Regions from separate parts of the Homo sapiens genome. Here region 1 is linked to region 2. Evidence: fine-mapped expression QTL. A gene starts in region 2. The other region holds a variant in brackets. All regions are shown on one strand. Distances are from middle to middle.

Region 1 (8,337 bases), 110 kb after region 2:
CTTCCTCTTTTCCTAATTGAATACCCTTTATTTCCTTCTCCTGCCTAATTGCCCTGGCCAGAACTTCCAACACTATGTTGAATAGGAGTGGTGAGAGAGGGCATCCCTGTCTTGTGCCAGTTTTCCAAGGGAATGCTTCCAGTTTTTGCCCATTCAGTATGATATTGGCTGTGGGTTTGTCATAGATAGCTCTTATTATTTTGAAATATGTCCCATCAATACCTAATTTATTGAGAGTTTTTAGCATGAAGGGTTGTTGAATTTTGTCAAAGGCTTTTTCTGCATCTATTGAGATAATCATGTGGTTTTTGTCTTTGGCTCTGTTTATATGCTGGATTACATTTACTGATTTGCGTATATTGAACCAGCCTTGCATCCCAGGGATGAAGCCCACTTGATCATGGTGGATAAGCTTTTTAATGTGCTGCTGGATTCGTTTTGCCAGTATTTTATTGAGGATTTTTGCATCAATGTTCATCAAGGATATTGGTCTAAAATTCTCTTTTTTGGTTGTGTCTCTGCCTGGCTTTGGTATCAGAATGATGCTGGCCTCATAAAAGGAGTTAGGGAGGATTCCCTCTTTTTCTGTTGATTGGAATAGTTTCAGAAGGAATGGTACCAGTTCCTCCTTGTACCTCTGGTAGAATTCGGCTGTGAATCCATCTGGTCCTGGACTCTTTTTGGTTGGTAAGCTATTGATTATTGCCACAATTTCAGAGTCTGTTATTGGTCTATTCAGAGATTCAACTTCTTCCTGGTTTAGTCTTGGGAGAATGTATGTGTCGAGGAATTTATCCATTTCTTCTAGATTTTCTAGTTTATTTGCGTAGAGGTGTTTGTAGTATTCTCTGATGGTAGTTTGTATTTCTGTGGGATCGGTGGTGATATCCCCTTTATCATTTTGTATTGCGTCTATTTGATTCTGCTCTCTTTTTTTCTTTATTAGTCTTGCTAGTGGTCTGTCAATTTTGTTGATCCTTTCAAAAAACCAGCTCCTGGATTCATTAATTTTTTGAAGGGTTTTTTGTGTCTCTATTTCCTTCAGTTCTGCTCTGATTTTAGTTATTTCTTGCCTTCTGCTAGCTTTTGAATGTGTTTGCTCTTGCTTTTCTAGTTCTTTTAATTGTGATGTTAGGGTGTCAATTTTGGATCTTTCCTGCTTTCTCTTGTGGGCATTTAGTGCTATAAATTTCCCTCTACACACTGCTTTGAATGCGTCTCAGAGATTCTGGTATGTTGTGTCTTTGTTCTCATTGGTTTCAAAGAACATCTTTATTTCTGCCTTCATTTTGTTATGTACCCATTAGTCATTCAGGAGCAGGTTGTTCAGTTTCCATGTAGTTGAGCGGTTTTGAGTGAGATTCTTAATCCTGAGTTCTAGTTTGATTGCACTGTGGTCTGAGAGACAGTTTGTTATAATTTCTGTTCTTTTACATTTGCTGAGGAGAGCTTTACTTCCAAGTATGTGGTCAATTTTGGAATAGGTGTGGTGTGGTGCTGAAAAAAATGTATATTCTGTTAATTTGGGGTGGAGAGTTCTGTAGATGTCTACTAGGTCCGCTTGGTGCAGAGCTGAGTTCAATTCCTGGGTATCCTTGTTGACTTTCTGTCTCGTTGATCTGTCTAATGTTGACAGTGGGGTGTTAAAGTCTCCCATTATTAATGTGTGGGAGTCTAAGTCTCTTTGTAGGTCACTCAGGACTTGCTTTATGAATCTGGGTGCTCCTGTATTGGGTGCATATATATTTAGGATAGTTAGCTCTTCTTGTTGAATTGATCCCTTTACCATTATGTAATGGCCTTCTTTGTCTCTTTTGATCTTTGTTGGTTTAAAGTCTGTTTTATCCGAGACTAGGATTGCAACCCCTGCCTTTTTTTGTTTTCCATTTGCTTGGTAGATCTTCCTCCATCCTTTTATTTTGAGCCTATGTGTGTCTCTGCACATGAGATGGGTTTCCTGAATACAGCACACTGATGGGTCTTGACTCTTTATCCAATTTGCCAGTCTGTGTCTTTTAATTGGAGCATTTAGTCCATTTACATTTAAAGTTAATATTGTTATGTGTGAATTTGATCCTGTCATTATGATGTTAGCTGTTTATTTTGCTCGTTAGTTGATGTAGTTTCTTCCTAGTCTCGATGGTCTTTACATTTTGGCATGATTTTGCAGCAGCTGGTACCGGTTGTTCCTTTCCATGTTTAGCGCTTCCTTCAGGAGCTCTTTTAGGGCAGGCCTGGTGGTGACAAAATCTCTCAGCATTTGCTTGTCTGTAAAGTATTTTATTTCTCCTTCTCTTATGAAGCTTAGTTTGGCTGGATATGAAATTCTGGGTTGAAAATTCTTTTCTTTAAGAATGTTGAATATTGGCCCCCACTCTCTTCTGGCTTGTAGGGTTTCTGCCGAGAGATCTGCTGTTAGTCTGATGGGCTTCCCTTTGTGGGTAACCCGACCTTTCTCTCTGGCTGCCCTTAACATTTTTTCCTTCATTTCAACTTTGGTGAATCTGACAATTATGTGTCTTGGAGTTGCTCTTCTCGAGGAGTATCTTTGTGGCGTTCTCTGTATTTCCTGAATCTGAACGTTGGCCTGCCTCGCTAGATAGGGGAAGTTCTCCTGGATAATATCCTGCAGAGTGTTTTCCAACTTGGTTCCATTCTCCCCATCACTTTCAGGTACACCAGTCAGACGTAGATTTGGTCTTTTCACATAGTCCCATATTTCTTGGAGGCTTTACTCATTTCGTTTTATTCTTTTTTCTCTAAACTTCCCTTCTCGCTTCATTTCATTCATTTCATCTTCCATCGCTGATATTCTTTCTTCCAGTTGATCGCATCGGCTCCTGAGGCTTCTGCATTCTTCACGTAGTTCTCGAGCCTTGGTTTTCAGCTCCATCAGCTCCTTTAAGCACTTCTCTGTATTGGTTATTCTAGTTATACATTCTTCTAAATTTTTTTCAAAGTTTTCAACTTCTTTGCCTTTGGTTTGTATGTCCTCCCATAGCTCAGAGTAATTTGATCGTCTGAAGCCCTCTTCTCTCAGCTCGTCAAAGTCATTCTCCATCCAGCTTTGTTCCGTTGCTGGTGAGGAACTGTGTTCCTTTGGAGGAGGAGAGGCACTCTGCTTTTTAGAGTTTCCAGTTTTTCTGTTCTGTTTTTTCCCCATCTTTGTGGTTTTATCTACTTTTGGTCTTTGATGATGGTGACGTACAGATGGGTTTTTGGTGTGGATGTCCTTTCTGTTTGTTAGTTTTCCTTCTGACAGACAGGACCCTCAACTGCAAGTCTGTTGGAATACCCTGCCGTGTGAGGTATCAGTGTGCCCCTGCTGGGGGGTGCCTCCCAGATAGGCTGCTCGGGGGTCAGGGGTCAGGGACCCACTTGAGGAGGCAGTCTGCCCGTTCTCAGATCTCCAGCTGC[A/G]TGCTGGGAGAACCACTGCTCTCTTCAAAGCTGTCAGACAGGGACATTTAAGTCTGCAGAGGTTACTGCTGTCTTTTTGTTTGTCTGTGCCCTGCCCCCAGAGGTGGAGCCTACAGAGGCATGCAGGCCTCCTTGAGCTGTGGTGGGCTCCACCCAATTCGAGCTTCCCGGCTGCTTTGTTTACCTAAGCAAGCCTGGGCAATGGCGGGCGCCCCTCCCCCAGCCTTGCTGCCGCCTTGCAGTTTGATCTCAGACTGCTATGCTAGCAATCAGCGAGACTCCGTGGGCGTAGGACCCTCCGAGCTAGGTGCGGGGTATAATCTCGTGGTGCGCCGTTTTTTAAGCCCATCGGAAAAGCGCAGTATTCGGGTGGGAGTGACCCAATTTTCCAGGTGCCGTCCGTCACCCCTTTCTTTGACTCGGAAAGGGAACTCCCTGACCCCTTGCACTTCCCAAGTGAGGCAATGCCTCGCCCTGCTTCGGCTCGCGCACGGTGCGTGCACCCACTGACCTGCGCCCACTGTCTGGCACTCCCTAGTGAGATGAACCCGGTACCTCAGATGGAAATTCAGAAATCACTGTCTTCTGCATCGCTCACCCTGGGAGTTGTAGACCGGAGCTGTTCCTATTTGGCCATCTTGGCTCCTCCCCCAATTTTTGTAATTTTAGTAGAGACAGGGTTTCACCATGTTGGCCAGGCTGGTCTCAAACTCCTGACCTCAGGTGATCCACCCACTTGGGCCTCCCAAAGTGCTGGGATTACGGGGGTGAGCCACCACACCCAGACCATTCTATTCTTTGAGTTTCCGTCTTTCTGTTTACATTGCCCGTCTGCTCTGCTTGTTCTGTTATGTTTCTGTTGAAGCCCAGTTTTAAGAAGCATACGTCTAGTTCCTTGGAGACACTGACAACCCAGACACACTTTAAACTCAATCATTTTGGACCATAGGGAGAATGTTAAGAAAGCTGTGACTGGGTCTGCGTGGTGGCTCACTCGTGTAATCCCAGCACTTTGGGAGGCTGAGGTGGGCAGAGTTCAAGACCAGCATGGCCAATATGGTGAAACCCCATCTCTACTAAAATTAGCTGGACATGGTGGCACATGCCTGTAATCCCAGCTACTTGGGAGGCTGAGGCAGGAGAATCTCTTGAACCTGGGAGGCAGAGGTTGCAGTGTGCTGAGATTGCATCACTGCACTCCAGCCTGGGCGACAAGAGTTAAACTCCATCTCAGAAAAAAAATCTATGGCATTCCCAGTCATACACAAAGGCCAGGAGTTGTGATGGAGACAGGATCTGTCTATCCCTACTCCAAAACAAAGCTAAGTGAGGTGATTTTCTCTGTATTGGTTTCTGTGGCTGCTGCAACAAATTTCCACAAATGGGATGGCTCAAGTCATCTCACAGCTCTGGAGGCCAGACACTGAAATTAGGGTGTCAGAAAGGCCACAGTCTCTCTGAAGGCTCTGTGGGAGAATTCCTTATATACTTCTTCTAGCTTATGGTGGCGCCAGGCATCCCTTGACTTGTGGCCACATCACTTCAGTCTCTGACTCCGTGGTCACATTGCCTCCTTCTCTTCTGTTTCCTCTTTTTCCAAATAAAGTGAACATTCACAGCTCCTGGGAATTTAGAACCTGGGCATATCTTTGGAAGGCCATTATTAACCGATTACATTCTCTTCACTTTTTCTCTTGTGGTGAAGGAACTTACTCAAATTAACCCTTTTGCTATGGGTTTCTTATTTGAAGTTCCAGTTTCTTCAGCAGAGATTTGTTGGACTTCCCGGTTTGTATATACCGGAGGCTTTTCTTTCCCTGCTTTCCTAGCTCTTTAGTGCCAAAAGCATTAAGCCACCAGACCCCATGGGAGTCATTATTTTTGGCCTCTGTGTAATTCTCCCGTTTTCTTCCTGTGCAGCTTTTTTTTTTAAATTTAGTTGCATATCGTACTTTTAAATTTTCTGTCATGATGTTAAATACTAAAGCTCTATTTCTTCTTGGGTTCCTCCTTCCCTCCCTGGGTTTATTTTCAGTGACTCTCCTTTGTCGTTTTCCCTCTCATCTCATCATTGGGCCTCATCATCCATCTAAGTCACCAGTCTGCAGTCTGTACTCTTCACCAGAGCTATCTTCATGAACATTCCTGCCTTGATTTTGTTCCCTTGCTTAGAGCCCCCAAAGCTCCTTATTCTCTTATGCCTCAGAATCTTCCCTTCCACACAAGATCCTTCCTGCTCTGGGCCTTCCCTGTCTTGCTAATTCTGTCCATGAGTCTTTCACTCTATCAAAGGCTTTTTTCACTCTCCCTCGAACACACTTGGCTCTTTCATTGTGGTATGGTAGTAAAGATCATCTAATAATGTAGCTTTCTATTTTGATAAGCTTATATAAAACTTTAGAGATAATTCTTAACTCTTCTTGTCCCTCAAATCCTTTGGTCACCAAGTACTGTTGTGCAGTGGAGCTGAAGATGACATTTATCTCTCACTTGTTCTTGCAAGCAAATGCAGTGGCATGATTGAACCTGGTCAGGGGTAGAACCATGTCTGTATGAATTATGTATTTATAATACTACCTGCAATTCACAGAACCATTCTTAACCTGTGCTGCCTTTCTGTATTCTCTTTACTCTGTGACGTTAGTTAGGCAAAAGTTTAGTGGGTGAGAACTTTTAAATGTTTAGTGATTTATCTAAGATTACCACAAAGTTGGAACTTTTTCTAATTCAGTATCTTTCCAATCTAGTATCTATAGCTTCGTTTTCATTATGCCTTTTCTCTCAGAATTGTCTTTCATAAAGTATCAATAACTTGGTAAATTAGAAGAGCCACAAAATGTTGACCATTTTAGAAACCCTTAGATGTCTTCTTGCTTGCTCCACTAAACTCTAAACATCATCTCCAGGTCCTGTAATTATCTATTAAGGAAGTAGCTTTGAGAGTATTCTCACATCTAGGATTGCTGCTAGGTAGGACAAGAGCTATTTTTAAAGGAAGCTCATCTGTTTGCTTTAAATTCAGATCTGACTAGAAGCAAAATGCTCCACAGTAGGCAGATAACTTTAAATTTTCTTTTTTTTTGTTTTTGAGTTGTATATTCAGTATATTTCAATCAATTGCATTTGGGTTATATTTTTGGATGCTCAGAGTTTTCGTCATTGGCCATATTGGATCCTGTATTCTTTAACATGATCCTTTGTCTTTGGTAAATTCTTGCTTTCTCACGTAGCAACATGTCCTAGGCTTATTATGTACTTTTACTTCTCCAGACGTAGAAAATAGCTGTTCTTCAAATTATAGAGAATCATATTTTGAAACCACATATCTGGGATACTGAGTTGGCACAGCCTCTAGGCTTTTTTTGTAGACATAGGAAGTATCTGTGTATGAGGAAAAATAACCATCTTGGCAGTACCCAGAGTTAGCCAAACTGTGAAGTGATGGCATAGTCCTCCAGAAGGCTCCAGGAGTCTGCCCGATATCTAACTCCACCTGCAAGGAGTGAGGATTCTACTCAGGGAAAGATCCACACAAGACCCCCATCACTGCTGGCACCAACTGCAAGTTCCAGGGATTTTCCTAAACCACCCTCAGGTTCAGTAACCTGCTAGGAGGACTCAGACTCACTAAAAGGTATTACACTCATGGTTTGAATTAGGGTAGGGAAAGGATACACGTTAGAACCAGCGAGAGTGAGAGAGAGAGAGAGACCCTGGAGTCATGGATAATGTTTCTTCCTCTCATCCCTTACATCTGACAACACAGAGACTATATTACCAACCAGGGAAGCTCACTCGAGCCTTGGTGTCCAGTTTCTGTTGAGGTTTCATTCTGTAGGCATGATTGCTGTCTTTCTCAACTGATATACCATGTGACCCAAAGTCCCCATCCTAAATCATATACTTGGTCTTTCTGTCCTGGCCAGCACTACCCTGAATTGTCTCATTAGCAACAACTGTCAGGTTTGGTGAACATACCCACCATGAGAAACAAAGATTCCTACCAGGAAATTCCAAGGATTTAGAGGTTCACCTCAGGAGCTGGGACAAAAGGCAGAACTCTTAGGATAAGGCCAAATTCCTTACTACACAAGCAGTTAACATTTTTTTAAATATTCACCCCCAATAGGTAAAATACTGATTTTTTTTCAACTTTTTCTTTCCATTCTAGAAATTACAGAAGACATCCCCGTGAAGACTTTGAATATGAAGACTGTGTATGTTTCTGTGTTACCAACAACAGCAGACTTCTAGCATGTACTTATCAATGTTGTTCGGTCAGCCCTTCCCTAATTACACCTATCCCCTACACATACATGCACATAGACACACACATGAACACACTGAAGATATTTCCTTCAGGTGTGTGTAAAATATGCTGCTTGGATTGAAATTCAAATGGGATTGATTAGTCAAGTAACTTGAGACCTCACAGTAATCTTCACACTTAACCTTAGACACCTATGCAGTCATGTTGGGAGCAGGTTACAATGTTACTTCAGCCCACAGTTTATTTCTATACTTGAGTTCTTAAGTACAGAAGATAGAAGTGATTTAAATGGCATAGTATATATATCATTTTCTGGCCTTTTAAAATTTATTTGAGACCTCTTGATGAAATGGACATATTATATATTTCTGCCACCTGGATTTTCCTGGATAATTTGATGGAATATTTTAAGTTTCAGTAAATCAGAACAATAAACAAACTCAGATATAAATGTGTTGAAAGTAATTCATTCTCCCATAGATAAATGAAACTTGAAATGTGTAAACTTTGAAGAACATAAAAACTTCATGGTGGTTTCTTATTAAGACAGTGGACTAGACATCTAATAAAACTTCTTTCCAAAATCCCAGGTGATAATTTGAGTCCTCAGAGAAGCAGATGACATGACAAAGTTAGATGTGCAAGAATTT
Region 2 (8,279 bases):
AAGATGGACAGTGGTGATGGCTGTACAACAATGTGCATGTGTTTAATGCCATTGAGCTGAACGCTCAAAAATGGTTAAAATAGTAAATCTTATGTATATTTTGCCACAAAAAGAAAATCTGCATATTCTTATTCATAGCAGTTATTTAGTTTGAGCAAAATATTTGTGTATTTCAACTAATGATGTTAGTTTGAGCTATTTTGGATTTGTTTGAATTTTATTCACTTTGTGGTTTTATTATTTGTAAGTTTGTCCTCATAACATAAAAATTTTTTGTCAGAATTAGGAGCTTGCAAGAATTTTTTTTCCTTTAAAATCAATCTGTACACGAGTTTAAAGGTCAATGGTCTACTAATGAGTGTTAGTTACTATTATGAGGCAAGTACTCTTCTAAATGAACTACATATATTAACTCAATTAGTCCTCACAGCAACCCAAAAACTTGGGTATAATTTTACCACGGAGGAAACTGAAGCACAGAAAGGGGGAGCTCACTTAACCAAGATCACTCAGCCAATAGCAGAGACAGGATTTGAAAGCAGGCAATTTGGCTCCACAGTGTGGACATATGGATATAGCTGAATAATTTAGCTCCAATTTTCCTACCTCCAATCCATCCAACCACTTATAATCACTTAAAAAAATAGCTTGGTACATAGGTTCCAATCCTCCTCCTCCACTATAGTGAAAAGAAACCTCACGGTTAAATCCAAACACCCTGGACTGACATTTAATGTCTCCCACAATCTGGACTCTTCTGACTTTCCAATTTAACCACTGAGAAGTCCCAGATTATATAAATAATCTACTAAGAACTAAAAATAAAATCCTACCCCACCCCCACAATCACCTGAACCGACTCCCTCTTGGTCAAGGGGACCCCAAAGAAACCTTAAAAACTCAGTTCTTAACCATGACAGGATGGGAGGTCAGACACACCTCGTTATACCCCTTCCTATTTGGGATGTAGACACAACAACTGACCAGCATTAATGTTAAAATAGAGATCGTAAGAGTTGCAGAACGGACTCTGTGGCAATAAGATACCAAATTATAAACAAGACCTAAGGCCATGCCAGGCAAGGGTTAAGTCACATACCCCCTACCTTTAAAAGAATGAACTATGTTCTAACTGCCACAATATTTTTTTCACTAGCACTGGCCTCCAGATAAGCAATATTGAAATAATTGCAGTTCATCCACCACCAGATGCTAACTGATTCCCCTGTTCCACAGGCTTTGATAGGACAAGAGAATGATTTCAAAAATTTTCTTTTGATAAGATCACCAACCATGGACTTGTTCTAACAGGTTTACAAGGCCTGTGTACTTAAGTACCTTTGCTTCCCTCCTTCAACTTTTGACGTACAGGGCCTAATTGTAATGCATTTAAATATTAAGTCAGCTTCCCAAAATGAATATGGAGTGCATGTAATATGCATTTTTATTCAGTACAGGTGAGCACATCTCCCTTCGTGAATATTCATAGCCCCTCCTATAACCTGTTGAATATGTATACCTAGCCCACTCATACAGCATAAATCCCTGCCCCAACCCCTCCTCCTCCAAAGTGTGGGCCTTTCTGCTTTGCCTGAGACTATGCTTCCTAGCCTGTCAGGATGGCCACTTTGCAGACTGTAACCCTTTTTAAGAAATAGTCTCTCTAAATTTGCAGATCTCATGATTTTTCAGTTGACACTACTATGGGGACTAATGAAATCTTGTGGCCAGTAAAGAAACTATTTTTCCCTGGTTCTTAAACTTCCAAGTGTGCACACAAATCCTCTGTTAGGGCAGTGTATTTTTTTAAAATGCAGATTCTGATTCAGTAGGTCAGGATGTCGCTCTAACAAACCGCCAGGTAATGCTAAAGCGTCCCATCTGTGGAGCACACCTCAAATAGCAAGGGTCTTTAATACATTTACTCTCATTTGTGGAGGAGCACACCTTTTTCCTCTCCCTTTAACCAGTCACAGCTTCCTCTACTTTCATGACCGCACGCAGACATTTTCTGTAGATCTCCTCCTTCCCATTTTCTACCAATTCTTCTCCAGTTAGCTCAGGAAAAATCCCATTCTTTCTGCACCTATGTCAAATTACTCTTGACTCAAAAATTGAAGACAGTTTATGTTTTCGAGAGGCTTCTATGTTTGAGATGATAATACATAATTACGGTTGCAGAGCTTTTCTCTCCCTCTCCTTCAATAAACCAAAAGTGCCCAGACTTTGGAGTAAAATTTTTGGGTCCCAATCCATCTCTGACAATTCCTTTCTCTGGAACCTTGGACAAGCTACCTAACTTCTCTGAGCCTCAGTTTCTTCAACTATAAAACAGGGCTAACAGTAGCACCTACCTCAGAGGAATGTCAAATTCTCCTGCAGTCTATATTAACTACTTTTCTTTTATCAACTTAGTTTTTTACCGAAGTTATTTTTCAAAGGAATTTTTATGTCATCGTAAACACAAAGTCATTATCAGTTGAGATGGTTAGCTGACCTACCAAAACAAATGCCATGAAACCAAACGGAGTTATTAAATCCCAACTAGAGATACTTCTGCATACTGGAGGCGGAATTATCTAGCTAGGGATATAGTCAAGACTTCCTCCTTGTCAGTCATCCACACAGACGACTGCGATTAAACGAGTTAATACCCTGCAATGCGTTTACAGCTGGGCGCCGTACGCGCTGCTCCCAACTCTAGGCCATCGTCATGACAGGATCAATGCCAGTTCATGCCCACTTTCTAGGGCTGGGAGTAGGAGACCGAGGATGTCTGTGGAGATTCACCCGCCTGGCCCGGGAACCCTGGCCAGCGGGCCCTGGGGGACTTGGGGTGGTCACGTACTGGACTCGGGACTTCTCTTCCCAGGGCGCCGGTGGGTCCTCACACGCTCGCCGCAGGGCCGCGATCTCAGCTTGCAAGGCGCGCACCTCTGCCAGCTCTGCGTCCATGGCGCGTTGCTGACCGCAGCCGGGCCGGCAGCGCAGCTGTCACTCCGACCTGCGCGCTTCACCCGCGCTTCAAGCCTCGCGCGCGCTCCCGGCGCGGACCATCCCAGAGCTCACGCGGAGGGGAGGCGGGAGAGCTCCGCGTGACCCCAGCGGCCCTGCACGTCCAACTCCGCTCTCGCACGAGAGCCTGAGTCCTCCACTTCCCCGCACACGTTTCCCTGGCTGTCTAAGCAGTGGCTATACTTTCTCTGGAGAGCGCGTTCTTTGCTACTCCAAGCCCAAGCGCTCCGCTGCTCACCCTAGCCGGCAGCCTTGGAGCCGCCCGGCCGCGTGCCTCACTAAAGAGGCAGGGCTGGGATCACGTGGAGGGGAGCGCCTCTTTATTTTTTTCACCTACTTCCTCTCTTACGCCGACCTAGTCCAGGAATTGGTACACACAGCGATAGTGTTCAATAGAAACTAGGGGATTTTGGTTTAGGCTCTTTTGCAGTCGTTGAGGGGGAGGTGACGGAGGCGTCAGGGAAGGTGGGAGGACGGAAAAGGAAATTAAAAGCTCTTGGGAACTGAATTGTGGTAACGGAACCTTAGGAGGCTGGGTTGGAAATCGAGTAGGAAGGAAGAGAGGATGCTCCGTTGGGACACGTGACCAGAAGTTAGGGGCTGCAGCGGCGCTGGCTTTAGGTGAACGACGTGGTGAGGAGTGGGTTTCGGGCATGAGAAGTCACAGGGCCGTTTCCTAGTCTCTCTTCACTTCTTTGGGTCTTCTCAGAGAAAGAAGGCTGCCGTGGGTAGGCTGGGGGCGGAGACTATCGGGAAGAGGTAGGCCGAAGTTCTGCCCAGAATACACGCCATGTGGTGGACGCTGGTTGGGAGTCTCTTCTGGAAAGAGTCTGTCAGCTCTTGGGGAAGGGAAGGGCGAGAGCTGAGCGCCTGCCGGGTGCTAAACGAAATGAGAGATACTATGATGGGCCCTAGTACCTCTGGAAAAGTTTTCCTGAGTCCCCTGTGATACAGCAACCTTCATAGTATAGTGTTAAGAATTCCAAGTTCTGAAGGTAGACCTGCATTATAATCCTGGATTCACTAATTTTCGGTATGGCATTGAGGAAGTGACTTAACCTCTTCTGCTCTCCTGAAAAATGGGAAACATGCAAACTACTTTGTACAATGCAGGCACATAGCAAAAACACAAGTCTGTATTCGCTATATCCCTTGATCTTTGTGTCTGAACCCCACTTTGCAGCACTTTTATTGTGACATAATATTGTGCCATTTGTTTTATTCTTTTGTGACTATAAGGAGCTCCTAGCCTCTCTATTCACTTCTTTGGGTCTTCTAGGAGGAAGAAGGCTGGGGTGGGTAGGTTGGGGGTGGAGACAATTAGGAAGAGGTAGGCTAGCTCTTTTTATCTTTTAGTGCGTTACATCCTGTTTCTGTCAGACTTTGTTAAAGACAGTAAATGAATGTATGAGTGAGTCAAGGAAAAACATCTAAAAACATGAATACATAAAATTAAGAGGGATAGAGTGTAATATTATGGCCATTTGGAGGAAAAAAACTCTGTCTGTACCTGTGTCTATATGGGTATGGGGTTGCTGTTCCAAAGTGCATTCATGAAAGATGTGGATGTAGGGCTTGGGCAAAACCTCGAAGACTAAAATTTGGAAGTAATACAATAGGAAGTGAAATACAGATCCAGGAGACGGATTTGATACAGAAGGTTCAGAGGAAGTAGTTGTTTTGTTAGATTTTAGAAGAACTAAGGGAAAGAACTCTTCTCTGTATACAGAAAATTACTTTTCCCACTGAAACACACCCAAGTATATGCCCAGCCTTCATGAAAGTGAACAGAGAAACGAAGCGCCTTTATGTGGGTGGCCTTAGCCAGGACATTTCTGAGGCAGACCTACAAAATCAGTTCAGCAGATTTGGAGAAGTTTCGGATGTGGAGATCATCACACGGAAAGATGACCAAGGTAATTTATGGTCCTTCACTGGGCAGTTATAGGCAGACATAACTCAGGTTAAGTGCTAGAAAATAAAACAACCCCAAGATAAATGTTAGCTCTGAACACCAAAAGTTTTAAGTGATGTTGTGGAGGTATAATGTGTGATGTGGAACTTGACCAGAATTTGTTTCTGAAATAAGAAAAAATTCCAAATTCTAAAACATCTGATTTCAGAAACATATTAACTTCCAGTTTTGAGAACTAGAATTTTCTAACATGGATTAAGTGTCCCGTTAAGTAGACTATCACTAGCATACAATCAAAATGTTTCCTTATCTGACTACTGGACATTTTCTTCTTTTTTTTTTTGGAATATTTTGATAATTATGCTTATTTTTATAGCCAATAAAAAACAAGGTTTATCTTTGAAATAATAAGTTTTCAAGAGCTATTTTTTTTTTTAATTTAGAAACAACCGTTTTTACATTGCTCTCTGGATAAGAATTTAAATAAATTGTTTTGTTTGTTTGTTTGTTTGTTTTTTAGGAAACCCACAGAAAGTTTTTGCATATATCAACATCAGTGTAGCAGAAGCGGACCTGAAAAAATGTAAGATCATCATATATTTTCTATACTGTTTGCCAGTTTGTATGACTCTGTAACTTGGAATAACTGGTTCTAAATCTAAACCTCCACAGCCATTTTTCACGTTATCCAGAGGGACAGCAGTGATGAAGAGAATTCCAGTATCGTATAACTCAGCAGGTTTAGGTCCATTCCATTTGGCATCAGCAGACATGGTAGCACTTTACTGGTGGGTTTACTTAAAACTGCTATTCTCAAATATTTTGGACAAGGGACCAAACTTTCATAGAAACTGCCTGTTACATATATCCCACTGAATATCATGCCACATTCCCCCTCAGTCTGATCATTTCTTTGACAGCTAATCCTTGTCACTAAACACTCTTGAGGGGGCTTTAAAATACACCCTTGTAAGACCGTATCCTTGAAATTGTGAAATCTCTTGTTGATAAGTTTAGTAAAGTCAAGGGCAAACAGTGGCCTTCAATGAAGAATGGGAGATAATCCATACTGCCGCTGACACAGTAACATATTCTAGTTATTTGGAGGCCAAAAAGTGAAAAAAGACACGGAAAATAAGTAAAGGGAACACGCTAATAGAGGAAGAGGGCAATCAGTCTTTTGTAATTTCATTTGCGAAAAGATTGCTTTATTCTATTTTACATTGAGGAATATATGTGATAAATGTGAAGTTGTGGTTAAGAATACATCAACTAGGCTTTGTGACCTGTGGCAAGTTACTTAAACTTCTCAGCCCAAGTTTGCTTATGTGATGAATGACAAAAGATAGTGCTTGCCTCATAATATTTCTGTGAGAATTAAATTAAATGATACATTTGCAATACTTTGGGAGGCTAAGGCAGGTGGATCACTTGAGGTCAGGAGTTTGAGACCAGCCTGGCCAACATGGTGAAACCCCATCTTTACTAAAAATACCACAATTAGCTGGGTGTGGTGGCAGACACCTGTAATCCCAGCTACTTGGGAGGCTGAGACAGGAGAATCACCAGGGAGGCAGAGGTTGCAGTGAGCCAAGATAGTGCCACTGCACTCCAGCCTGGGCGACAGAAGGACACTCTGTCTCAAAAAGAAAAGATAAATTTGTACTTAGTACAGTATCTACCACCTACAAAATTCTGTTAATGGTATTATTAAGGAAGCTGACGGCAGATGCTCAGAGAAATCAATTACTACGGCATAGTAATTCAAACAGTTCAGTCACTCATAGTTAATTCATCTGCAAGTTCTACAGTGATAATTAGTATGAGGTGATAAATAAAATTAAGGTGCTGTAGGATTCCAGAGTGTCCTCTGATTCACCTGAAAAGATGATTGTTTTATAGTTACAGGAAATATATGTTTTATAGTTACAGGAAATAACAATAAAATATACATTAAATATCAGTTATTCAGAGGTTCCTGACATTTGTTTACAAACAAATTGCAAATAAATTTTGCTTTACTTTTTACACATTTTGCCTCATTCCAATCTAGTAACACTGTGAGATAGGGAGTGTAAAGACTCTTTTGGTAAGTTGTCAAGATGAAACAAGAGCCTAGGCTCCCTCTCTCCAGGTCTCATTTCTTTTCTTCCACTTCCCCTGGATCTCTTTGTGATAAACAAGCCTGCTTTTCTTGATACTAAATAATTAGAAAAAGCACAAGCTGAAATATATTTTTACATTGCCATGTACTTGTAATAATTCTTTACTTTATAGGTATGTCTGTTTTAAATAAAACAAAATGGAAAGGTGGAACATTACAAATTCAACTAGCAAAAGAAAGCTTTCTGCACAGGTAAGTTTTGCTCCACATGGATTTAAGCCCTATTTTTTTTATATTGTAAGTGGTTTTATATATTATTTCAAATTATCAAGTAATATAGTATTATATTCTTAACAAATTCAAACATATAAGTAGAGCTGAAATCCCTTTCAACTCTGAATCCCCTTCACCCCAGACGAACAAAAAGGATAATTTCATGCATTTACGTATGTATGTAATAAGCTATAAAAGTATATATGTACTTATTTTCTCTGTTAATGAGCTATAAAAGCATATATGTACTTATTTTCTCTTTGTTAACACACCCTTTTGTGGCAATGTAGATCTTCTCCCTTTATAACAATTGTTAGTAGTATTTCAGAAAATGGTTATACCACAATGTAGTGGTCCCTTCCCACTGATGACTGTTTCTACTTTTTCATGGTCATAGATGATCCTGGAGCACATATCCTATGTATATGCAGGTGTTTCTCTCAGTTTATATCAGAAAATGGAGTTGCTGAATCTTAGCATTGTCTGCATTTAAATTTTAGTAGACTACTAAATTGCATATGTTGATTTTGACTGTTAATGCTAGTGTCATACCAAAATATAAAGGAAATAGGAGATCACTGTATGACAGGCATAAGAGTGATTATGCAAGTGATTTAAGAGCAAGACAATGTATTATAAAAACCATTAGAGCTTTTAAAATCCTAAAGGTATTTTCAGGAAGAAAAGGTATTGTTGGGGAGTTTTCAAAATAGGAAACAATTTAAGAATATACAGATAGAGGCCGGGCACGGTGGCTCACGCCTGTAATCCCAGCACTTTGGGAGGCCGAGGCGGGTGGATCACCTGAGGTCAGGAGTTCAAGACCAGCCTGGCTAAAGTGGTGAAACCCCGTCTCTACTAAAAATACAAAAATTAGCTGGTTGTGGTCATGGGCTCCTGTAATCCCAGCTACTTGGGAGGCTGAGGCAGGAGAATCACTTGAACCTGGGAGGCGGAGGTTGCAGTGAGCCT

Evidence for each region.
Region 1: its variant is fine-mapped to the expression of NOL8 in whole blood (TOPMed, PIP above 0.99).

What each region holds. Positions count from the first base shown.
Region 1 is chr9:92,210,141-92,218,477 of GRCh38, reverse strand. It overlaps IARS1 (isoleucyl-tRNA synthetase 1), which reads left to right. Exons shown (of 34, transcript NM_002161.6): 34 at 7,589-8,271. The coding sequence ends at 7,671. It overlaps LOC112268048 (a long non-coding RNA gene), which reads right to left. Exons shown (of 2, transcript XR_002956919.2): 2 at 8,320-8,337. Among named protein-coding and RNA genes, the nearest start is that of LINC00475, 73 kb to the right of the region's middle. RefSeq lists an enhancer at 3,207-4,103. The variant A/G (reference allele first, on the strand shown) is at 3,418.
Region 2 is chr9:92,320,675-92,328,953 of GRCh38, reverse strand. NOL8 (nucleolar protein 8) reads left to right here and starts at 3,604. Exons shown (of 17, transcript NM_017948.6): 1 at 3,604-3,648; 2 at 4,745-4,931; 3 at 5,451-5,513; 4 at 7,208-7,286. The coding sequence starts at 4,793. It overlaps CENPP (centromere protein P), which reads right to left and starts at 3,001. Exons shown (of 8, transcript NM_001012267.3): 1 at 2,849-3,001. The coding sequence starts at 2,955. RefSeq lists enhancers at 3,396-3,505, 3,536-3,655, 3,434-4,322.